Linked DNA regions of Homo sapiens. The protein of the gene in region 3 interacts with the protein of the main gene of each other region in a biochemical or structural test. Each region holds a gene or a part of one and is shown on either strand. Other genes may lie near its edges. The genes, in order: CAV1, NHERF1, PDGFRB and CRK.

Region 1 (5,680 bases), on a different chromosome or scaffold from region 3:
AACATGTTATTTTTGTCATGTTGCTTTCCACCCCTGGAGACCTGCTCTAAATTCACTTGGACGTTTGAGGATAAATCATGCTCACTAGCAGTTTCTGAAAATGCAGTTTCACTGAAAATGCAGGCATCCAGAAATTTAGTAAGCAACTTAAAAGAAAGTGTAAGAATCTCCTATGTATTCATTGAAAAATAATTTGAATTTATGCTTAGAAAAATAGAATTATTATTAAGAAATCTTACACACTCATGTTTTTAAATATCTTCACTAAGGACCAATTGTGTATATGGTGTAACACTGTCCTCAAAGAACATGCCGGGAGAATTGTTGCAGTTACCAGAGGGTTAAATTTGGCAAACTCTTTTTTATTAACGTGCCTTTTAATTATGAAATAGCATACTCACCTTAGATAAAATTTGAAAACCATTTTTGTAAAGTGGTACAATATTGAAGAAAGTTGATAACTTTCAGACCAGATTTAAGCCTCAAATCTACCTCTCTTTTACCTGGACAACTCATTAGCATTTCTGAACCTCACATTTTTTCTATAAAGTGAGAATACTATATTATAGAGTTGTTGTCAGTTAAATGAGAACAGTGTCTGATCACAACTAGTCAACAAATGTTCACAACTCTTCCCCTCCTAGGAAAAGAATCTCAAGGCAGACCTGCTTCGGGTCTGCTCTGTAAAGAGGTAGGAATCCTCTGCTCCCGGTAAATTGCTTCCTAACCTTCTTTGGTAATAGACTATTTTTTAATAAAGGTGATGGATCATTTCCCATTATACACTCAAAATGTGTGTCCATTTCAGGGCAGTCATGGATGACCATTGCCCATCTTTTGACCCCAGATTAAGAACACCTGCTGTAGTATTTTAATTCTGCCTTCAAATCCTCTTACAAAACAAAGACATCTTTAAAAAATAAAATTCTTTAGGTGTCTTGCAGTTGAATGCAGGAAAACCAGAGCCCCTTATTTTTGATAGTTTTGGGAAGAATGCAGTGTCAGAACACAAACCCATAATAGACAAATAATTTGCACAGAAACTTCATAAAAGTATTGACCTGATTTGCCATGTATTTGCCACCTTTTAAAACACACAACTAAATGTTTACCCTGTGTCTAGATCCAAATGGGTGAAGAAAAATGAGTGACAATACATCTACTTAAGCTCACTTACATAATTGTGGCCATGCCGTTTTTTTCACATTACATTATTAGAACATTGGACAATAAGTCAAGAAACAGAATGTTCTACAAAATAAACTTTAAAAATTGGTAAGCATCATGTGCTTTTTCCAGAAGACATTTTATTTTGTTGAATCAAAGGTGGCTCTTTGGCACTGAGTAGCTCCGTGGAGTCATGGCAGTCCTCATTCCCTAATCCTGAGCCTGCCTGAGTCGCTGCTGTCAGTCATCCACTTGTTGGGATTTCAAACTGCATTAAATCCCCTCCTATAGCTGTCACTGCCAAGCAGTTGCACTGGCTCTGTCCTACCTTTCTGTTGGTAATTCTGTTTTTAATCCTGTGCTTCAGTGTAGTTTATATAAATCTTTACAGAGGGATAAAACTTCCTGTAATTAATTGTTTGGGTGAACATGTACCTGGGAGAGCTATTGGGAAAGGGGCCAAATTTGCATTCCAGCTCCTTTCATCCCCACCCTTGAGCTAACCAAGTCCTGTGGATTCTTCCCTTAGCATCTCTGGAACCTTCTTTTCTTTTCTTTTTTTTATGACCACCTTTCCAGTCCTGGCCCTTCAAACTTGAGTGACAGCAACAGTCTCCCTGCCTTGAGTCTCTTTCCTCCTTCTCCCAGTGTGCATACGGTTGTCAAACTCATCTTGATAAACTACTGCATCGATTGTGGCTACACTCCCCTGCTCCCACATCTTCCATAGACCCCACTGTCTGTAAAATAATATTCAGTCTGGCCTCAACCTGTCTTTCCAGCCTCGGTGACACAGGTCTATTCTGCCTGAGACACTTACTATGACACCCTTGCTTGTTCCTGGGGCTTTGACACATTTCCAACGTCCCATTGTTCTTCCTCTCCAAATCAGCCAATTGCCCAAGCCCTGCTCAAATCTCCCACCTCATGAAGCCTTCTTGATGCCTCCCAGCACACCATGATCTAATTTCCTGAAGTAATTATGCTAATTGGGCATTTGAAGAATTGTTAACCGATTATCAACTAACTGCCCCTTAACATTGCATGTGTAGTTGTCTTCAAAGGCAGTTAAATTATGTCATGTTCCTTACATTGTACTGAGTGCCTCGTATCCTTATCCATGTTTGGGGGTTTTACTTTAAGTCAAGAAATTTAATCACATCCATTTGGTTTTCTCTAGAGCTGTAGTTCTCAACCTTTTGTGTGGTAGAGAAACACCTAGAGAACATGTTTAAAAATATCCTGGGTTCCACCCTTGAGAGATAATAAGGTCCAAGGGGAACCCAAATATCTGTGTTTCAGGTCAGCTTATTGGCTCATCCTATTATACCAACTCCTCAGAAGGCCAAGGTGGGTGGATTCCTTGATCTCAGGCGTTCAAGACCAGCCTGGGCAATATCGTGAGACTCCATCTCTTAAAAAAAAAAAAAAAAAGGATTAGCCAAGTGTGGTGGCATGAACCTGTGGTCCCAGCTACTTAAGAGGCTGAGGCAGACAGATTGCTTGAGCCTGGGAAGTCGAAGCTGCAGTGAGCCATGATCATGCCACTGCACTCCAGCCTGGGTGACAGAGCAAGACCCTGTCTCAAAAAAATAAAAATGAAAAAAATCTGTGTTCCCAAGTTCCAAGTGATGCTGATGCTGCTGGTTGCCTTTAAGCATCTCACAAAGAACGAACTCATAAATGCTAATACAGTATATGTCTATGGATACTGAATAGTGGGTTTTTTTTCTCTTTTCTTCTATTCTGTGCTCATGTTGTGTCACTTCTTCCTTTTAGATTGACTTTGAAGATGTGATTGCAGAACCAGAAGGGACACACAGTTTTGACGGCATTTGGAAGGCCAGCTTCACCACCTTCACTGTGACGAAATACTGGTTTTACCGCTTGCTGTCTGCCCTCTTTGGCATCCCGATGGCACTCATCTGGGGCATTTACTTCGCCATTCTCTCTTTCCTGCACATCTGGGCAGTTGTACCATGCATTAAGAGCTTCCTGATTGAGATTCAGTGCATCAGCCGTGTCTATTCCATCTACGTCCACACCGTCTGTGACCCACTCTTTGAAGCTGTTGGGAAAATATTCAGCAATGTCCGCATCAACTTGCAGAAAGAAATATAAATGACATTTCAAGGATAGAAGTATACCTGATTTTTTTTCCTTTTAATTTTCCTGGTGCCAATTTCAAGTTCCAAGTTGCTAATACAGCAACAATTTATGAATTGAATTATCTTGGTTGAAAATAAAAAGATCACTTTCTCAGTTTTCATAAGTATTATGTCTCTTCTGAGCTATTTCATCTATTTTTGGCAGTCTGAATTTTTAAAACCCATTTAAATTTTTTTCCTTACCTTTTTATTTGCATGTGGATCAACCATCGCTTTATTGGCTGAGATATGAACATATTGTTGAAAGGTAATTTGAGAGAAATATGAAGAACTGAGGAGGAAAAAAAAAAAAAAGAAAAGAACCAACAACCTCAACTGCCTACTCCAAAATGTTGGTCATTTTATGTTAAGGGAAGAATTCCAGGGTATGGCCATGGAGTGTACAAGTATGTGGGCAGATTTTCAGCAAACTCTTTTCCCACTGTTTAAGGAGTTAGTGGATTACTGCCATTCACTTCATAATCCAGTAGGATCCAGTGATCCTTACAAGTTAGAAAACATAATCTTCTGCCTTCTCATGATCCAACTAATGCCTTACTCTTCTTGAAATTTTAACCTATGATATTTTCTGTGCCTGAATATTTGTTATGTAGATAACAAGACCTCAGTGCCTTCCTGTTTTTCACATTTTCCTTTTCAAATAGGGTCTAACTCAGCAACTCGCTTTAGGTCAGCAGCCTCCCTGAAGACCAAAATTAGAATATCCATGACCTAGTTTTCCATGCGTGTTTCTGACTCTGAGCTACAGAGTCTGGTGAAGCTCACTTCTGGGCTTCATCTGGCAACATCTTTATCCGTAGTGGGTATGGTTGACACTAGCCCAATGAAATGAATTAAAGTGGACCAATAGGGCTGAGCTCTCTGTGGGCTGGCAGTCCTGGAAGCCAGCTTTCCCTGCCTCTCATCAACTGAATGAGGTCAGCATGTCTATTCAGCTTCGTTTATTTTCAAGAATAATCACGCTTTCCTGAATCCAAACTAATCCATCACCGGGGTGGTTTAGTGGCTCAACATTGTGTTCCCATTTCAGCTGATCAGTGGGCCTCCAAGGAGGGGCTGTAAAATGGAGGCCATTGTGTGAGCCTATCAGAGTTGCTGCAAACCTGACCCCTGCTCAGTAAAGCACTTGCAACCGTCTGTTATGCTGTGACACATGGCCCCTCCCCCTGCCAGGAGCTTTGGACCTAATCCAAGCATCCCTTTGCCCAGAAAGAAGATGGGGGAGGAGGCAGTAATAAAAAGATTGAAGTATTTTGCTGGAATAAGTTCAAATTCTTCTGAACTCAAACTGAGGAATTTCACCTGTAAACCTGAGTCGTACAGAAAGCTGCCTGGTATATCCAAAAGCTTTTTATTCCTCCTGCTCATATTGTGATTCTGCCTTTGGGGACTTTTCTTAAACCTTCAGTTATGATTTTTTTTTCATACACTTATTGGAACTCTGCTTGATTTTTGCCTCTTCCAGTCTTCCTGACACTTTAATTACCAACCTGTTACCTACTTTGACTTTTTGCATTTAAAACAGACACTGGCATGGATATAGTTTTACTTTTAAACTGTGTACATAACTGAAAATGTGCTATACTGCATACTTTTTAAATGTAAAGATATTTTTATCTTTATATGAAGAAAATCACTTAGGAAATGGCTTTGTGATTCAATCTGTAAACTGTGTATTCCAAGACATGTCTGTTCTACATAGATGCTTAGTCCCTCATGCAAATCAATTACTGGTCCAAAAGATTGCTGAAATTTTATATGCTTACTGATATATTTTACAATTTTTTATCATGCATGTCCTGTAAAGGTTACAAGCCTGCACAATAAAAATGTTTAACGGTTAAACAGTCAGCTTTATTATTTTTTCCCAAAACAGGTGTTTATGTGTCAGAGTCTGTGTATGTCTATGTATTTGTATGTAATGAGCATGTGCATAGTGTGTGTATGTGTTTGTATGTGTTTGTGGGGGGTAATGGTCTCCCACTTTAAAATTATTACAAAGTCACTTAGGATATTTCTGCTAAGGTCATCACCATTTATGAGTTGCTTCAGATAAAAGTTATAATTAATAACAAAGTTTTTTTAGCAATTTGCCCAATGTTTTATATGTCATCTAATTTGAGCCCCCAGCAAGCTTGTGTGATGGATATTAATACTCTTAACTTAGCGAAAGACACAATTTGCATTCGGGGCCAATGCCTTCAACTTTGCCATGCCTTAACTGGGTTTTAAAGAGGTATATTGCAGTCTCAATTTATGTTTGTTGCTTGGCTAAGTTTACCTTCAGGACTCCTATATTAGGGTTCTCCAGAGAAACAAAACCAATAGGAGATAGTTGGAGATAG
Region 2 (7,036 bases), on a different chromosome or scaffold from region 3:
AGGTGGAAGTGGCTCTCCAGCTCTGCCCACCGGCTTTGCTTTGTGGATGGCCTTCCCCGCCTGCCCCGTGGGGAGAGAGGAGCAGCAAGACCCGCCCTGCTGTTCCCCTGCTTAAAGCCCTCCTCCCCCCATTCACCACCAGTCACAGGATGAGGCCTAAACCCTTGAGTCTGGGTTCAGAGTGCCGGCCGGGCAGAGCCGAGCCAGCTCAGCTGTACTAGCCAGGCTGTGCGAAGCCAAGTTACCTCACCTCTGTAAGCCTCCATTTCCTCTTGTGTAAGTTGGGGGTTATGGCAGCTACCTCGGAATTGCATGAGGCTGTGTGTAAAGCACGTAGCTCAGTGCCTGGCACTGAGTCCAGGCTCAGCCAGCCTTTGCAGTTGGTATTGGAATGAATACATATTTCATAGTGATCATTGCACACCTATCATGGGGCAGCTAGCGCTGGGTCAGCCTGCCTAGTTGGGCAAATGCCACTGTGGCCAAGCCTGGCACACAGTCAGTGCCTGATCGATGGTCACTGTGGGTTAAGAATGATACGTTGTGGCCAGGTGTGGTGGCTCACACCTGTAATCCCAGCACTTTGGGAGGCCAAAGTGGGAGGATCGCCTGAGCCCAGGAGTTTGAGACCAGCCTAGGCAACATGACAAGACCCTGTCTCTATTAAATTTTTTCTTTTTTTTTTTTAAGAGTTATATGCTGTTCCATGGCCCTTCTCCATCTGGCAGCCTGTTCTCACCACTGCCTCCCTACCCCCAAAACCACACCCAGGGTCCGAATTCCCCTCTAGCCTCTAAGCCTTCACACCCTGACACTTCTGTCCCCTCCCAGGGAGCCTGTCCTTAATCCAGTAGGCAGAGTTAGCATTTCCTTTCCTTCACTTTTTTTGTTTTTGTTTTTGTTTTTGTTTTTTTTGAGACAGATTCCACCCAGGCTGGAGTGGTGTCGCAACCTCGCCTCGCTGCAGCCTCGACCTCCAGGGCTCAATCGATCCTCCCACCTCATTCTCCCTAGTAGCTGGGACTACAGGCATGCACCACTATTCCCAGCTAATTTTTAAATTCTTTGTAGAGATGGAGTTTCACCGTGTTGCCCAGGCTGGTCTTGAACTCCTGGGCTGAGGTGATCTGCCAGCCTCGGCCTCCGCCTCCTCTTTGTCCTTACATCTTTTATCGCTCTAAACACACAATATTTTAATCATCTGTTTGTGACCTTTTTCTCCACTACGTGGTAAGCCCAAGGGCATCAACTGTGGCCTATTTGTGTTTCTATCCCCAGCGCTGTCCTTGGCACATGGTAGGGAGGCTCTCAAAAACAGTTTTTGAATTAATGAATGAATATATAACAACAGTCAGGGACCTTTGTCCTCATTCAGCTCATCCCGCCCCGCCCAGAGATTGGAATTCCAGATAGAACCTACCCACTCTTCTTTCTTGCCTGCTAGCAGCTTCTATTTGAAAACTAGAAAGCCAAAAGTCCAGGCTTTGGGGTCAGCCAGATCAGTGTTTGAATCCCAGCTCTGCCGTGTGCTGGTTCTGGGATCCTGGGAGTTCATTTTTCCCTGCAACCCTCAGCCTCCACCTCTGTGAAAGGCACTGCCTGCAGGGTTATTGGGAAGATTTGGTGGCATGACAGGTTTGTAAATGAAAGTGCTAGTTTGGGGTGTTTCCTGCCAGCCCTGACCCTGATCCCAGAGTCAGAGTGCAGGCACCCCAGGGAGCAAGGTGGGTGGTGGGGCACAGTTAGCTGGAGGGCCATCAACCTCTTTCCCAGGGCGGGCGGGCCATTTTACACCAACCAAGTTGGAGCTCTGGTAGGGCAGAACAGAGCTTGAGCTGCTGGGTGTTTGGATTTGAAATGGACAGGGTATGTGATTGTTTGTGTGTTGGGATCTCTTTCTTTGCTGGCAAAACAGTGTAGCCCCTGGTTCTTACCTTCAAGCTCCTGTTAACTCAGTAATTCTGGAGATGATTCTCTTGGAGATAGATGGGGGCTTCCTGGCCGGGCGCAGTGACTTGTGCCTGTAATCCCATCACTTCGGGAGGCTGAGGCGGGAGGATCGCTTAAGCCCAGGAGTTTGAGACCAGCCTGGGCAACATAGTGAGACCTCGTCTCTACCAAAAAAACAGGGGGAGGGGGGTGAATGGGGGCTTCCTTCTCAAGGAACTCCATATGTCTAGATGGGGTCCTTCTCCCCTTTCCCAGATGTCCCATCTCAATGGTCCCTGGGAAAGTGGGGTGGGAAATTAATAAGAAACTCAGGCCAGGCACGGTGGCTCACGCCTGTAATCCCAGCACTTTGGGAGGCCGAGGCGGGTGGATCAGTTGAGGTCAGGAGTTGAGGTCAGGAGTTCAAGACCAGCCTGGCCAACATGGTAAAAACCCATCTCTACTAAAAATACAAAAATTAGCGAGGCGTGGTGGCAGGTGCCTGTAATCCCAGCTACTCGGGAGTCTGAGGCAGGAGAATGGCTTGAACCTGGGAGGTGGAGGTTTCAGTGAGCCGAGATCGCGCCACTGCACTCCAGCCCGAGCAGCAGAGTGAGACTCATCTCCAAAATAAAAAAAAAAGAAAGAAGAAGCTCAGCCGAGGTCTTGTTGGTGCTGCAGGACTCTTTACAGGGAGAAACCAGAGCTCTAGACCCCAATAACAAATGTTCCTCTGTTTTCGTTGCTCTAAGATAGAGTGGCCCTACCTGGAAGGAAACAGGTTTGTACAGTGCCTTTAGGCACTCTACCTATGACATAAAGATGTTGACATGCATTTCTTTCTTTCTTTCTTTCTTTCTTTCTTTTTTTTTTTTTTTTTTTTCCTGAGACAGTCTTGCTCTGTTGCCCAGGCTGGAGTGCAGTGGTGTGATCTCGGCTCACTGCAACCTCCGTCTCTCAAGTTCAAGCAATTGTCCTGCCTCAGCCTTCCATGTAGCTAGGATTACAAACACCCGCCACCACACCCTGCTAATTTTTGTATTTTTAGTAGAGACGGAGTTTCACCACGGTGGCCAGGCTGGGTGGCACCTGTCACAACACCCTGCTAATTTTTGTATTTTTAGTAGAGATGGGGTTTCACCACATTGGCCAGGCTGGTTTCAAACTCCTGACCTCAGGTAATCCACCTGCCTCGGTCTCCCAAAGTGCTGGGATTATAGGCATGAGCCACCACACCCAGCCAATATGCATTTCATTGTCCCCCAGACAAATTAGCTATTGTTTTCTCTATTTTGTAGGTTGACAGTAAGTGTTCAATACATGATAGCTACTATTTGTGTCTAGCACTGTGCTAAGTACTAACCTTGCCTGTCTCATTTAATCCACATGACCACCAGTGAGGCAGATATTGGCCCCATTCTCTGCCTATGGAGGCTGAGGCTTGATCAGTTAAGGTGGCCATGGCGGGTCCCAGGACTCTGAGCTAGCGACTCCTCCCACACAGCGCAGGGGTGTGTCTTGGAACCCAACCCTCTGACTCTAGTGCCTGCACAGCCATTTGGCCACATGAGTAGGCTGTGCTTGAAGCCTGACTCTGCCAGGTGTTTCTGCCCATCATATTCTGAGCCACAGCTGGACCATCACAGTGGTATAAATTCAGGCTGCTTGAACTGGCTTCCTGTAAGGATCCAGGGCTTCCAGGTGCTCCTGTCCCTAGCAGGGCATCCTTGCAGTGCCTCAGCCCATAAGTGGCAGGCTCCTGTCCCCATCCCTTCTCACGTGATGTGATAGGTCAATCTGGAATCTGGTAACCAAGTATCTACCCCCGCCCTCACTCCCCAGAACCTGCACAGAGAGCCCCCCTCAAGGGTGGTCTTCACTGTTGACCGAAGCCTTCCCCTCATGGTAGGACAACTCACCATGTCCCCAGACTCCTAGGCAATGTTTAGGTCCCTAGGCCCTAGAAAAGGACAAGAGTTACAGATTCCCTGAGGTCCAGGTCACCTCGGGGTGGTGTGGGAACACACAGAGAATGCTGGCCAGGTTCAAGTCCCACTCACTGCTGGGTGCTGAGAGCTCTGAATTCTCCGAGACAGGCTGCAGCCTCTCCCTGTGCTAAGGTCAGGGGAACAGCAATGGCCAGGGGTATTTAGAGGAGTGTGTTTGGGGCAGTCTCAGGCAGCACAGGTCTGTGCTGTCCGGGCAGCAGCCACCAGCTTCGCGAGGCTCCCGGGCACTCGAGATGTGCTGGTCCACATGCAGACGTGCTGTGTGTGCAAAATGCACACCAGATTTTGAAGCCATTGTACAAATAAAAGGATGTACAATAGCTCAATTGTTAAAAATGGATTACACATTGAAATGATAATATTTTGGGTACATTATGTTAAATAAAATATTCAATTCTACTATTTTTCCTGTTTTTTTTTTTTTTGGAGGCAGAGTCTCGCTCTGTTGCCCAGGCTGGAGTGCAGTGGTGCGATCTCGGCTCACTGCAAGCTCCACCTCCCAGGTTCAAGCGATTCTCCTGCCTCAGCCTCCCAAGTAGCTGTGCACCACCACGCCCAGCTGATTTTTGTATTTTTCTTTTTTAGTAGAGATAGGGTTTCACCATGTTGACCAGGCTGGTCTCAAACTCCTGTGCTCAAGTGATCCACTTGCCTCGTCCTCCCAAAATGCTGGGATTACAGGCATGAGCCACCACACCTGGCCTATTTTTCTTTTCTTTCTTTCTTTCTTTTTTTTTTTTTTTTTTTTTTTGAGACGGAGCCTTGCTCTATCACCCAGGCTGGAGTGCAGTGGCGTGATCTCGGCTCACTGCAACCTCCGCCTCCTGGGTTCAAGCGGTTCTCGTGCCTCAGCCTCTGGAGTAGCTGGGACCACAGGTGTGCACCACCACATATGTCTAATTTTCATATTTTTAGTTGAGACAGGGTTTCACCATGTTGGCCATGCTGGTCTTGAACTCCCGACCTCAGGTGATCCACCTGCCTTGGCCTCCCAAAATGCTGGGATTACAAGTGTGAGCCACTGCACCCGGCCTATTTTTCCTTTTTCAAATGTGATGACTAGAAAATCTTACATTCCACACATGGCTGGCATTATATATCTACTGGACAGTGCTGCTCTGGATCTGAGCTCAAATCCTGCCTTTGCCCGTCAGCCATGTGTACTTGAGCAACTGACTCCAGCTTTTTGAAGCTGGGTTTCCTTTTCTGTGAAATGCTGGCAATAATACTTTCCTTTTAGGACTATAATTGGCTCTTAAGAAGAAAACACATGTAAAGAGCTCGGTGCCTAACACATAGTAGGTGTTCAGTAAATAGCAGCTGCTATTTGTTACTTCAGTGTTGAGCCCCAATTTCACAAGCTCCTTGAAGGTTCTTAATAGCCCCTTGGGACAACCCCTGGGGGTTAAATCTAGAGACTTCTGGGAGGAGGGTGAGGGATGAGGAAGGATGCAGCAGGGAAGGCATGGGGCGGCCAGCCCTGGATGGTGTCCAGCCGGGCTGCAGCCCAGGTACCAGCCTGCTCCATCCCAGGCTTGCCCAGCCCTGCAGAGACCTGAGCCAGACTCTGCCCCCTCTTGCCCCCGTGGGTCTCCATGGCTGGCACAGGGAGAAGAGGTTACTAGCCAGAAGGAGAACCTGTTTCAGACCTCTGAGTCCTGGGGGTGTCTGTCAGACCAGCAGACCTCACTTTAGTTTGTGTCTCCCTCCTGGTTCCCACCCTACCAGACTCCAGGGAAAGCTCTTCCCACTGAGAAATAGGAAGGAAGAGATCAAGGGCTAGGAGCAGTGAGTGACTTTTTTTAAAATGGACACATCCAACATTCCCCTGCCGCCCGCACAGACCTGGAGGGATGTGGAGGGTGGAAGGGGGTCCCATAGAGTAAAATGAGGTGACATCAGGGCCACTACGCAGGGGGCCAGTGACAGCCAAGCCCCCTGTACCTCACCTAGGGTAAGGAGAAGACACCTTCTGCCTAGAGGTGTGGACACTGGCTGAGTGCCTGGAGCCCCTGGTCACTTCCCAGTGCCCCCAGGCTGCCCGTCACACAGCACTCCAGGCAGGGCCAGCTGTCTCCATCCTGGCTTCCTTGAAGAGCTGGCACCAGGCCCAGCCCTGTCTCCAGAATCTGGGGAACAAACTGAGCTGTCTCCCAGAGCAAATATGGCTCTTACACCCAACATACTCCTGACACACACACCCCAGCCCCTGAGAACAGCCAGGGTTCCTTCCTGCCCCCGCCGTCCTGCCCCCTTCCATCCTCTTGTTGGGGCTGATTTTCCTGTATTGGGCATGGGGCACTGGTCTTCTTTGCATAAACAAGAGCCCTGGGCTGGGGGAGGGGCAGTCTTGAGAGGTGGGGTTACCTCTGTTGTTCCCCTGGACACCCAAGTGGTCTTCCTACTCCTCCAGCCCCTTTCCTCTGGGGTCCTGAGCTAGCTGGCTCGAAGGAAGCGGGCTGGGCTGTTTCTGTAGGGCCCATCACCATGGCATCAGCCAGGGAGGGGCTGGGCCCAATGGGGCGTTGGCCCCCAGGCTCCCACAGCCTTCCCTGAAGGGAGGAAGGAGGAGCAGGGAGCGGCCCTGGGCCTGTTCCCCAGAGACGGTCACTGGGATTAGGGTATCGACTTTCCCCAGCTTTCCAGGTGACTGCTGGTGGCGCCTATTGAATTCCGTGCCCGCCATCCGCTCCCTGGACTGCGTGGGTGGAGGTGATGGGGCGGCCACTTAGGGCGCGGTGAAGCTCCCTGGGGGAAAGGACAGATGAAGGGAGGAAGCCTGAGGGTGGAGGAGGCCCCGGGAGAAGGGTGTGGGGGCAGCTCTCCGGGCAGGGTCTTTTCTGGAAAGCCAGCCAGCATTTTGTGAAAGTGAGAGTCTCCAGCCTGTCCAGCCCTGGGTCACCCCGGCCCAGCTGCGCTGCCCATCGGCTGCATGGCCTCATGTTCCCTCCTGTTGATTCTGGCTCTCTGCCAGTCTCCTCTCTGAGCAGATCCTGATTTTGTCTTGAACTTGGGTCTCCCAGGCTGTCGTCGTCACTGGAGGTCCCACTTTGCCCTCCGGAACTCACTGGGGCTATGTTCCTTTTGAGTCTCCTCCT
Region 3 (4,543 bases):
TTCTTTGGTTCTCCCTGCCCCGGGAGCAGAAGTACCAGCAGGTGGATGAGGAGTTTCTGAGGAGTGACCACCCAGCCATCCTTCGGTCCCAGGCCCGCTTGCCTGGGTTCCATGGCCTCCGATCTCCCCTGGACACCAGCTCCGTCCTCTATACTGCCGTGCAGCCCAATGAGGGTGACAACGACTATATCATCCCCCTGCCTGACCCCAAACCCGAGGTTGCTGACGAGGGCCCACTGGAGGGTTCCCCCAGCCTAGCCAGGTAACCACCCTGGCCTGGGGCCAAGGAAATTGTGCACAGTGTGTGTGTGTGTGTGTGTGTGTGTGTGTGTGTGCGCGCGCGCGCGCGCGCTGCCAGGTTTGCCTCAGAGGTAAGTTACGTAGGGTAAGTACTTATCCCTACCAATGAATAGAAGACAGAATGGAACTCATTTGAACTTTGATGCCCTGAGGTGGAAAGGGCAGGCTAGTAAAAACAAAAGTATGGGCTGGGACTTACTTGCAAGGTAGCTATTTCCTTTAAGGGAGCCCCCAGAGGTTATCTATACTCTCTTATCTCTAGGTCCTGTCCTAGCCCCAAAAAGAAGAAGCAAACCTACTTAGCATCCCCAGCACCCCAGCTGTTACTCATGGCCAGCCTGAGGCCTATGTTCTGTTCTTCAGCACCACGCCCTGGGGCCAGAGGGAGCCTGCTTGGTTGTAGGAGTCAGAGGTGCCTAAAGGAATTCAGGACAGAATTCAGACTGGGAAGGAGATTCGTGGTTTTCTTTTGCCTTGGGAAGTGGTGAAGTTACAGCCCAGAGGGGGCTTTATAGGAGGACCCTGCTGTTGTGTGGACTTGATGTCCACGCAGGATCTCCCCTTAACTGGAGAGAAGGGCTCCCCATGAGGCCACGCCCACCTCCAAAGCGAGATCCAGCCCAAGGTGAAGTGGCTGGAGCCCCAGGCTGGGGTACTGTCCCAACTCTGCCACTAGCCGCTGAGACCTGGGAAGGCTTCTCCTCTGCGAGCCTCAGTTTCTCCATATGTGCCAGGAGTGCACACCGGCCTTAGAAGGCTCCGAAGGCCCTCATTGCTCTAACTGTTGAAGAGGCCAACCATCCAAGAGTCCCAGTGGATGGTGCAGAGGAGTGAAGTGCAGCGCTCACACAGCTTGAGGTGTGAATGCTCACCCTGTTTTGTGCCCTCAGACAAGCTGCTTCACTGTCTAAACATTGGTGTCCTCTTCTTTTTTTTTTTATTATTTTTATTCATTTATTTATTTATTTTTGAGATGGAGTTTCGCTCTTGTTGCCCAGGCTGGAGTGCAATGGCGCGATCTCGGCTCACTGCAACCTCCACCTCCCAGGTTCAAGCAATTCTCCTGCCTCAGCCTCCCGAGTAGCTGGAATTACAGGCATGCAGCACCACGCCTGGCTAATTTTGTATTTTTAGTAGAGTTGGGGTTTCTCCATGTTGAGACTGGTCTCAACCTCCTGACCTCAGGTGATCCGCCTGCCTCGGCCTCCCAAAGTGCTGGGATTACAGATGTGAGCCACCACGCCCGGCCAGTGTCTTCTTCTGTAAAATACAAACAGTAAAAGTACTTCTATTAGGCGGTCATTGCAAGGATTAAATGAGATAGCATACACCTTTAGGAGTGCAGAGGAGGGAGATGCTGGTGGGTGAGAAACGAGCTTTGGAGCCAGCTGACCCTGCTCCGAAGTTCCAGCTCCTGCACTTCCCTGCTGTGTGAAGTGGGGCAGTGATATAACCTCTCTGAGCCACACTTTCCTCACGGTGCAGGCCTTGCATAGTTTTCACAAGAGTTAAATGAGCCGGAGTGTGTGAAGCCTACGGTGCAGGGGTGGACACACCGAAGGCTCTTCATGACTGCTGCTGGAATCCTCCTGGGCTCCTTCCTAGCCCCTCACTCACTGCCTCTTTCCTCTAGCTCCACCCTGAATGAAGTCAACACCTCCTCAACCATCTCCTGTGACAGCCCCCTGGAGCCCCAGGACGAACCAGAGCCAGAGCCCCAGCTTGAGCTCCAGGTGGAGCCGGAGCCAGAGCTGGAACAGTTGCCGGATTCGGGGTGCCCTGCGCCTCGGGCGGAAGCAGAGGATAGCTTCCTGTAGGGGGCTGGCCCCTACCCTGCCCTGCCTGAAGCTCCCCCCCTGCCAGCACCCAGCATCTCCTGGCCTGGCCTGACCGGGCTTCCTGTCAGCCAGGCTGCCCTTATCAGCTGTCCCCTTCTGGAAGCTTTCTGCTCCTGACGTGTTGTGCCCCAAACCCTGGGGCTGGCTTAGGAGGCAAGAAAACTGCAGGGGCCGTGACCAGCCCTCTGCCTCCAGGGAGGCCAACTGACTCTGAGCCAGGGTTCCCCCAGGGAACTCAGTTTTCCCATATGTAAAATGGGAAAGTTAGGCTTGATGACCCAGAATCTAGGATTCTCTCCCTGGCTGACAGGTGGGGAGACCGAATCCCTCCCTGGGAAGATTCTTGGAGTTACTGAGGTGGTAAATTAACTTTTTTCTGTTCAGCCAGCTACCCCTCAAGGAATCATAGCTCTCTCCTCGCACTTTTATCCACCCAGGAGCTAGGGAAGAGACCCTAGCCTCCCTGGCTGCTGGCTGAGCTAGGGCCTAGCCTTGAGCAGTGTTGCCTCATCCAGAAGAAAGCCAGTCTCCTCCCTATGATGCCAGTCCCTGCGTTCCCTGGCCCGAGCTGGTCTGGGGCCATTAGGCAGCCTAATTAATGCTGGAGGCTGAGCCAAGTACAGGACACCCCCAGCCTGCAGCCCTTGCCCAGGGCACTTGGAGCACACGCAGCCATAGCAAGTGCCTGTGTCCCTGTCCTTCAGGCCCATCAGTCCTGGGGCTTTTTCTTTATCACCCTCAGTCTTAATCCATCCACCAGAGTCTAGAAGGCCAGACGGGCCCCGCATCTGTGATGAGAATGTAAATGTGCCAGTGTGGAGTGGCCACGTGTGTGTGCCAGTATATGGCCCTGGCTCTGCATTGGACCTGCTATGAGGCTTTGGAGGAATCCCTCACCCTCTCTGGGCCTCAGTTTCCCCTTCAAAAAATGAATAAGTCGGACTTATTAACTCTGAGTGCCTTGCCAGCACTAACATTCTAGAGTATTCCAGGTGGTTGCACATTTGTCCAGATGAAGCAAGGCCATATACCCTAAACTTCCATCCTGGGGGTCAGCTGGGCTCCTGGGAGATTCCAGATCACACATCACACTCTGGGGACTCAGGAACCATGCCCCTTCCCCAGGCCCCCAGCAAGTCTCAAGAACACAGCTGCACAGGCCTTGACTTAGAGTGACAGCCGGTGTCCTGGAAAGCCCCCAGCAGCTGCCCCAGGGACATGGGAAGACCACGGGACCTCTTTCACTACCCACGATGACCTCCGGGGGTATCCTGGGCAAAAGGGACAAAGAGGGCAAATGAGATCACCTCCTGCAGCCCACCACTCCAGCACCTGTGCCGAGGTCTGCGTCGAAGACAGAATGGACAGTGAGGACAGTTATGTCTTGTAAAAGACAAGAAGCTTCAGATGGGTACCCCAAGAAGGATGTGAGAGGTGGGCGCTTTGGAGGTTTGCCCCTCACCCACCAGCTGCCCCATCCCTGAGGCAGCGCTCCATGGGGGTATGGTTTTGTCACTGCCCAGACCTAGCAGTGACATCTCATTGTCCCCAGCCCAGTGGGCATTGGAGGTGCCAGGGGAGTCAGGGTTGTAGCCAAGACGCCCCCGCACGGGGAGGGTTGGGAAGGGGGTGCAGGAAGCTCAACCCCTCTGGGCACCAACCCTGCATTGCAGGTTGGCACCTTACTTCCCTGGGATCCCCAGAGTTGGTCCAAGGAGGGAGAGTGGGTTCTCAATACGGTACCAAAGATATAATCACCTAGGTTTACAAATATTTTTAGGACTCACGTTAACTCACATTTATACAGCAGAAATGCTATTTTGTATGCTGTTGAGTTTTTCTATCTGTGTACTTTTTTTTAAGGGAAAGATTTTAATATTAAACCTGGTGCTTCTCACTCACAGACTTTGTGGTCTCTCTCGGGTTTGGGTTCCTGCCCATAGGGAGTGTGGAGTGGGGCACATGAGGCTCACCCAGACGCAGACCCCCAGACAGGTCCCTTCAGCTCTGAGTCTCATTTCATTCATCTGTAAAGTGGGGATTTTCGCTCTCCCACCCCTCGCTGGAAGCTGGGGGGCCTAGACCTTGGGCTTGGTTTCCCAAGGTGGGAAGCGAGCAGGCTTTTCTGGCTCCACAGAGCCTGGCCTTGAGTCGGGCAGGAGGGTGTGGGGCTGCAGGGCTGCTCCAAGGCTCTGGTGCTGAGGCGTCTCACTGCCTCCACCATGTGCTTTGGCTTTGGCTATCAGCTGGGACACCCTCCCCTCCACTCCGCCCACAGGCCCGGATTGAGGCCGGCGTGCTCTGTGACAGGCAGCTGCTAGAGCCCAGATTCCAGGTCCAGGTGAGTCATGATCAGGCCCCAGGTAGGAGAAGGGCAGACAGAGTGTCCAAAAGCGTGAGAGCAC
Region 4 (7,108 bases), on a different chromosome or scaffold from region 3:
GTGTGTAAGGTGAGTCCAGCAGGACTGTGTTATTCCTTAGACCATAATCCACAGCTTACTGCTTTTTTAAAAATGTAGATTTCTGCCAACCCTTCCTCCCAATTCCTATCTCAGAAAATTGAGGGTAGAGCAGAGTGACCATAGCTGTCTCTCCTTCCAGGATTTGAACCCTAGCTCCTCACTCTGCGACCATGTCTCTCTGGACACATTACTTAAACTCTCTGAGCTTCAGTTTTCTCTTTTGTAAGATGGGGATACTTGTCAAATAAGGTTGTTGAGAGGATTAAATGAGATGATCCATACAAAGGCAGTCAGCACTGTGCCTGGCAGATGGTCATCTCTGAATCAATGTTAGCGGTCCTGAATGCTTCTGGAGCACCTCATAGACTAGCTGCTTGGCCTTTGAGGACATACACAGAACTGCAAATGAAAAATTACAGTAAAATGGGTAAGAGCTGTCATGGGAATAATTTGGACATACTGCTGTTGATGAAGAGAGGGAGTGATGGGATGGTTAAGAAAGGGAAGACATTTGGGCCGGGTGCGGTGGCTCACGCCTGTCATCCCAGCACTTTGGGAGGCCAAGGCAGGCAGATCACAAAGTCAGGAGATCAAGACCATCCTGGCTAACACGGTGAAACCCTGTCTCTACTAAAAAAAAAAAAAAAAAAATTATCCAGGCGCGGTGGCGGGCGCCTGTAGTCCCAGCTACTCGGGAGGCTGAGGCAGGAGAATGGCGTGAACCCGGGAGGCGGAGCTTGCAGTGAGCCAGGATCGCGCCACTGCACTCCAGCCTGGGCGACAGAGCGAGACTCCGACTCAAAAACAAAAAAAAAAAAAAAAAAAAAAAGAAAAAGAAAAAAAGAAAGGGAAGACATTTGAATTTGAGACTCCAAAGTGGGTAGAAGAACATTCCAGGAAAAAGAAACCCAGCATTCACATAGGAGCAGTTAAACGAGACTGTGGACCAGCACAGTGGTACCTCTATAATCCCAGCTACTGAGGAGGCTGAGGAAGGAGGACCCCTGGAGCCCAGGAATTAGAGTCCAACCTGGGCACCATAAGAAGACCTCATCTCTTTTTTTTTTTTTCTGAGACGGAGTCTCACTCTATCGCCCAGGCTGGAGTGCAGTGGCTCGATCTCAGCTCACTGCAAGCTCCGCCTCCTGGGTTCACCCATTCTCCTGCCTCAGCCTCCTGAGTAGCTGGGACTACAGGCGCCCGCCACCACGCCCAGCTAATTTTTTTTGTATTTTTAGTAGAGACCGCGTTTCACCGTGTTAGCCAGGATGGTGTCGATCTCCTGACCTCGTGATCCACCTGCCTCAGCCTCCCAAAATGCTGGGATTACTGGCGTGAGCCACAGCGACCAGCTGACCTCATCTCTTAAAAAAATGATGATTATTATTTTAGAGAGGTGGTCTCACTCTGTCACCTGGGCTGAAGTGCTGTGGCATGATCATAGCTCAATACAGCCTCGAACTCCTGGGCTCAAGTGATCCACCCGCCTCAGGTTCCTGAGTAGCTGGGACTATAGCTGGATGTGCCACCACGCTCGGCTATAAAGAAAAACAATGTTTTTTGAGATGGAGTCTCGCTCTGTCGCCCAGGCTGGAGTGCAATGGCGCGATCTCACCTCACTGCAACCTCTGCCTCCCGGGTTCAAGTGATTCTCCTGTCTCAGCCTCCCGAGTAGCTGGGACTTCAGGCACCTGCCAGCACATCCGGCTAATTTTTTGTATTTTCAGTAGAGATGAGGTTTTGCCATGTTGGCCAGGCTGGTCTCGAACTCCTGACCTCCTGGCCTCCCAAAGTGCTGGGATTACAAGCATGAGCCACTATGCCTGGCCAGAAAAAATTTTTAATTAAAAAAAAATGAGCCTGGCCAATATGGTGAAACCCCGTCTCTACTGAAAATACAAACATTAGCCGGGCGTGGTGGCGGGTGCCTGTAGTCCCAGCTACTCGGGAGGCTGAGGCAGGGATAATCGCTTGAATCCGGGAGGCGGAGATTGCAGTGAGCCGAGATCACGCCACTGCACTCCAGCCTGGGCAACAGAGCAGGAATCCATCTAAAAAAAAAAAAAAGAGAGAGAGAGACTGTGGCCCAATTTTATGCTCTGAGCTAAACTGGGAGTTTGAACACCTGAAGACTGTTAAAAGTTTTACACAAGGTAGCAACACATTCAGATTTGTATACATATATATATATTTTTGAGACAGGATCTCCCTCTGTCACCCAGGCTGGAGTGCAGTGGCATGATTTCGGCTCACTGCAACCTCCGCCTCCTGGGTTCAAGCGATTCTCCTGCCTCATCCTCCTGAGTAGCTGGGATTACAGGCGCCCGCTAACACACCTGGCTAATTTTTGTATTTTTAGTAGAGACCGGGCTTCACCATATTGGTCAGCCCGGTCTCGAACTTCTGACCTCAGGTGATCTGCCAGCCACAGCCTCCCAAAGTGTTGGGATTACAGGCATGAGCCACGGCGCCCGGCCAGATCTGTATTTTAGAAAACTCAGTGGGAGTTGTTTGCAGTGCGATTAGGGGCAGCCAGACGAAAGAGCACCAGCGAGCACGACACTCGTAGGAACACAGTCCAGAGGCAATCATGAGGGCAGTGAGAGTAGGAGATGCCCCTGGCTACAATTTAGTGTTTAGAATTATCTGGGCAGGTGACCCCAAAGCCTCAAAAGAGAAGAGAACTCTGTACTTCACGTGGCTTGGTACACTCTGCTCCCTTTGCTTTGAATGTCCTTCCCCGCCGAGTGCGGTGGCTCACGCCTGTAATCCCAGCACTTTGGGAGGCCGAGGTGGGCGGATCTCAAGGTCAGGAGATCGAGACCAGCCTGGCTAACACGGTGAAACCCCATCTCTACTAAAAATACAAAAAGTTAGCCGGGCGTGGTGGCGGGTGCCTGCAGTCCCAGCAACTCGGGAGGCTGAGGCAGGAGAATGGCGTGAACCCGGGAGGCGGAGCTTGCAGTGAGCCGAGATCACGCCCAGGCACTCCAGCCTGGGCGACAGAGCGAGACTCCATCTCAAAAAAAAAAAAAAAAAAAAAAGAAAGAATGTCCTTCCCCATTTGTCATTCAGCAGTCAACACATGCTGCCTCCTCTGGGAAGCCCTCCTGGATTACTCCATAGACTGGCTGTGGGGGCTCTGCTCTGTGTTCATGTCCGTTTCCCATGATAGCGTTTGTCAGCATTTGTCATCCTTTTGTCATCCAGTTTCCTGGTTCCTCTCACTGGTCTGTGAGTTCGAGGAGTGCAGGGCCCAGCCATGATAACCTTTGCACCCGCAGTGCAAGTGGAGTGTCAACAACAATGTCCTAGGTGAATCAATGAAAATGAGAACGTCAGCTGGTCTGTGGAGAAGCTAGAGGAACGAGCAGAAACGGACCGACGTGGCCGGGCGCGATGTTTCTCGCCTGTAATCCCAGCACTTTGGGAGGCCGAGGCGGGCGGATCACCTGAGGTCAGGAGATTGAGACCATCCTGGCCGACATGGTGAAACCCCCGTCTCTACTAAAAATACAAAAAACAGCCGGGCGCGGTGGCTCACGCCTGTAGTCTCAGCTACTCGGGAGGCTGACGCAGGAGAATCGCTTGAACCCGGGAGCAGTGAGCCGAGATCGCGCCATTGCACTCCAGCGTGGGCGACAGAACAAGACTCCGTCTCAAAAAGAAAAAGAAAAAAGAAACAGACTGATATCGCAGGAAGCCTGGCCGAGAACTCAGGCCCCAGGGCCACACGCATCTTTTCTCCTCCAATTCTGTCTGGGAGTCGCTGCCTAGAAGTCCCAGGTCGTCCAGGAACCGGGGCCCAGACGAGAAGCACCGCTCTGTCCGCAGCGCAGGCGCGCGTCTCTGCGGGAGGCTGCGAGGCCCCGCCCCTCGGGCCCTAGACCCCGCCTCCCATCCCCCGCAGCCCGGGCCCGGGAAGGGCGGCACCGCCCATGAATCCGCATGCGCAGTGCGCGCGCGAGGGCGCCTTGCCCTTCTCCCAATGGCGGGCCGCGGGCCCCTTCCCGGCAGCCTCCCTCGGGCAGGGAGCGCGTCATTTCCGGAGGGGGAGGCCCGCGGCTGCCGCCGCCATTTCGGGCGCTGCTGTGAAGCTGAAACCGGAGCCGGTCCGCTGGGCGGCGGGCGCCGGGGGCCGGAGGGGCGCGCGCGGCGGCGGCACCCCAGCGTTTAGGCGCGGAGGCAGCCATGGCGGGCAACTTCGACTCGGAGGAGCGGAGTAGCTGGTACTGGGGGAGGTTGAGTCGGCAGGAGGCGGTGGCGCTGCTGCAGGGCCAGCGGCACGGGGTGTTCCTGGTGCGGGACTCGAGCACCAGCCCCGGGGACTATGTGCTCAGCGTCTCAGAGAACTCGCGCGTCTCCCACTACATCATCAACAGCAGCGGCCCGCGCCCGCCGGTGCCACCGTCGCCCGCCCAGCCTCCGCCCGGTGAGGGACTGACGGGACGGCGGGCCCTGGGCGGGGTGAGGGCCGCGGAACTCCCAGCCTGGCTGGCTGGTCCTCGAGAGCGGACCCTCGGGGGTCGTGGGCAGAGGGCTGGGTGACCGTGGCAGGGGCCCGCCGGCTGCTCGGGCTCGCTCTCACCCGGGGAGCAGGAGTGTGGGGGAGGAGGAGCCGCGGACCGAGGCCCCGGGGTGTGCCTGGGGAGGGCAGCCGCGGGGAAGGGGAACTGCTTCGGCCCCAGGGTGGGGCTGGCTCCCGGGCCAGGCGCAAGGGTAGGGCAGGGCAAGGCAACGTGGGGACAAAGAGCTGAGGGAGATGTTGGCACTGCGGGGGCATCACTTGGCAGCGGCGCCCAGAATGAATCCGATAATCCTACAAGTGGCTTTTAGGCTGGAAACGTTTCCTGCCGTGTTGGAGAGCCGGGTTTGGCCGTGCTCCCCTGGTGGCCTTTGGTAGGAAGTCACCACATACTGGCCGGGAGGGATGGAGACACCCTCAGGAAACCGGTCAATTTTTTCCTTTCTTGGGCATTTTTCCAAAATCTTTGTACCGTTCTCTTCCCCCGTGGAGGACGAAGGTGGTGAACTAAGTGCTAGAAGAAATAGTGGTAGCAGAAAGCCTTCAGTGACCAGCCCAACCCAGTTTAAGGCGATGCCTGGCTATGTGCAAGAGATCTAAGCGTCCAGAAGACTGTCCGCCGTTAGAGAGTTCTGGTTTTCAAAGTGTTTAGTGGAGGAAAGACATTTTATTCCACAAAATAAACCAGAAGTGAGGCAATGGAAACAGACCCTTCCCTGTAAGTGACTGGAACTTCATTTTCCTTGGACTTAAACATTGTCGGTGTGTACTTCAGGGCGTCACCTTGCTCAGTAAGATGGGGCTGCGGGCTGAGTCTTCCTGGATATTGGGAACAGACTCTACGCCAAGAACATAAATTACCTGCGCTGGGTTTTCCTTGCCAGGGAGGGATCCCTGAGATTGACTGTCTTACCGATGCCGTTGGAGTTGATTTGGGACTGTTTTAAGGGAATAGATAGATGCCCTTAGTACTGGAGATTTGTGAGGTACAAAGTAATTCTGGGGTTCTCATTGTATGTGTACCTGTGTAACAGCATCAGGAGTCCTCGTGCCTTCACGCTGTTGCCAAGTCGAAGCAGTTTCTTCTTGGCCAGCTGAGAATGGGTTCAGACTAGTCTCATATGAATCAGGAAGCTCTTGAGCCGTCCTTTGTAGACTTGCCCTTGTAGAATAGTTCTAATTTAGATTTACTCGCTCCGGCCAGAAATAGAGAATTGGATAGGCAGTCTCTTTGTTAACACACACCAATTTTTATTTTACTCTTTTCTAAGACGGAGTCTTGCTCTGTCACCCACGCTGGAGCACAGTGGCGCAATCTCGGCTCACGGCGATTCTCCTGTCTCAGTCTCCCAAGTAGCTGGGATTACAGGCACCCGCCACCATAACCAGCTAATGTTGTATTTTTCGTAGAGACGAAGTTTCACCAGGTTGGCCAGGCTGGTCTCGAACTCCTGACCTCAGGTGATCCACCAGCCTCGGCCTCCCAAAGTGCTGGGATTACAGGCAAGAGCCACCGCGCCTGGCCAACACATACTAATTTTTTTAAAATTTTTCTTATTTATTTCTTACTTATTTATTTATTTTGAGACGGAGTCTCTCTGTCGCCCAGGCTGGAGTGCAGTGGCGCGATCTTGGCTCACTGCAACCTTTGCCTTTTGGGTTCAAGTGATTCTGCCTCAGCCTCCTGAGTAGCTGGGATTGCTGGTGTGCATCACCACCACGCCCAGCTAATTTTTTGTATTTTTAGTAGAGATGGGGTTTTACCAGGTTGGCCAGATTGGTCTTGAACTCCTGATCTCAGGTGATCCACTCGCCTTTGCCTCCCAAAATGCTGGGATTACAGGCGTGGGCCACCGCACCCAGCTTTGTTTGTTTGAGGCGGAGTTTCGCTTTTGTTGCCCAGGCTGGAGTGCGATGGTGCAATCTCAGCTCACTGCAATCTCTACCTCCCCGGGTTCAAAGGATTCTCCTGTCTCAGCCTCCCTAGTAGCTGGGATTACAGGCACACTCCACTACGCCTGGCTAGTTTTTGTATTTTTAGTAGGGTTGGGGTTTCGCCAAGTTGACCAGGCTGGTCTCGAACTCCTGACCTCAGGTGATCTGCCCACCTCAGACTCCCAAAGTGTTGGGATTACAGGCGTGAGCCACCACACCCAGTCTAACACAACCATTTTTTAAAAATGAGTATGGGGTCTATAAGCTCACAAATTATCCTAGATCTTTCTCATTGTGGCCTGTTTAATAGTATTATGAGATGGGAATATTGATGTACCTGTGTTGGCCCTGAACCAGATATATTCTACTTTGATGCCACCTGCATAGTATCTGGGGTTTTGCATTATATGTCGTCACATGATGGCAAACTGTCATTGAAACTCACTTTTCAGCCTTTTGTTTGTGTTTGTTGGTTGCCAAAGTTGAAAATGGCAGCAGGCAGGTTTGTTAGTTTGATATTTTTTCATATCTTAGCATAACGATTTTATGTCTCAACACTTACCGTGATAATCGAGCACCACCTTTTCAAAACAGATAAGAACTCAGTTCCTTGGCTGAGGAAAGACG

Evidence for each region.
Region 1: the proteins of PDGFRB (region 3) and CAV1 form a complex in vitro, tested with the Homo sapiens proteins (one study listed by BioGRID).
Region 2: the proteins of PDGFRB (region 3) and NHERF1 form a complex in vitro, tested with the Homo sapiens proteins (2 studies listed by BioGRID and IntAct, with this or other methods).
Region 4: the proteins of PDGFRB (region 3) and CRK form a complex in vitro, tested with the Homo sapiens proteins (one study listed by BioGRID).

Annotation. Positions count from the first base shown.
Region 1 is NC_000007.14:116,556,000-116,561,679, forward strand, and holds the end of CAV1 (caveolin-1), read left to right. Parts: intron 1-2,946; coding exon 2,947-3,288; 3' UTR 3,289-5,180; downstream 5,181-5,680. UniProt on the Homo sapiens protein: May act as a scaffolding protein within caveolar membranes. Forms a stable heterooligomeric complex with CAV2 that targets to lipid rafts and drives caveolae formation. Mediates the recruitment of CAVIN proteins (CAVIN1/2/3/4) to the caveolae.
Region 2 is NC_000017.11:74,751,608-74,758,643, forward strand, and holds part of NHERF1 (Na(+)/H(+) exchange regulatory cofactor NHE-RF1), read left to right. Parts: intron 1-7,036. UniProt on the Homo sapiens protein: Scaffold protein that connects plasma membrane proteins with members of the ezrin/moesin/radixin family and thereby helps to link them to the actin cytoskeleton and to regulate their surface expression. Necessary for recycling of internalized ADRB2.
Region 3 is NC_000005.10:150,113,337-150,117,879, reverse strand, and holds the end of PDGFRB (platelet-derived growth factor receptor beta isoform 1 precursor), read left to right. Parts: intron 1-29; coding exon 30-262; intron 263-1,933; coding exon 1,934-2,117; 3' UTR 2,118-4,041; downstream 4,042-4,543. UniProt on the Homo sapiens protein: Tyrosine-protein kinase that acts as a cell-surface receptor for homodimeric PDGFB and PDGFD and for heterodimers formed by PDGFA and PDGFB, and plays an essential role in the regulation of embryonic development, cell proliferation, survival, differentiation, chemotaxis and migration.
Region 4 is NC_000017.11:1,453,222-1,460,329, reverse strand, and holds the start of CRK (adapter molecule crk), read left to right. Parts: upstream 1-4,097; 5' UTR 4,098-4,212; coding exon 4,213-4,453; intron 4,454-7,108. UniProt on the Homo sapiens protein: Involved in cell branching and adhesion mediated by BCAR1-CRK-RAPGEF1 signaling and activation of RAP1.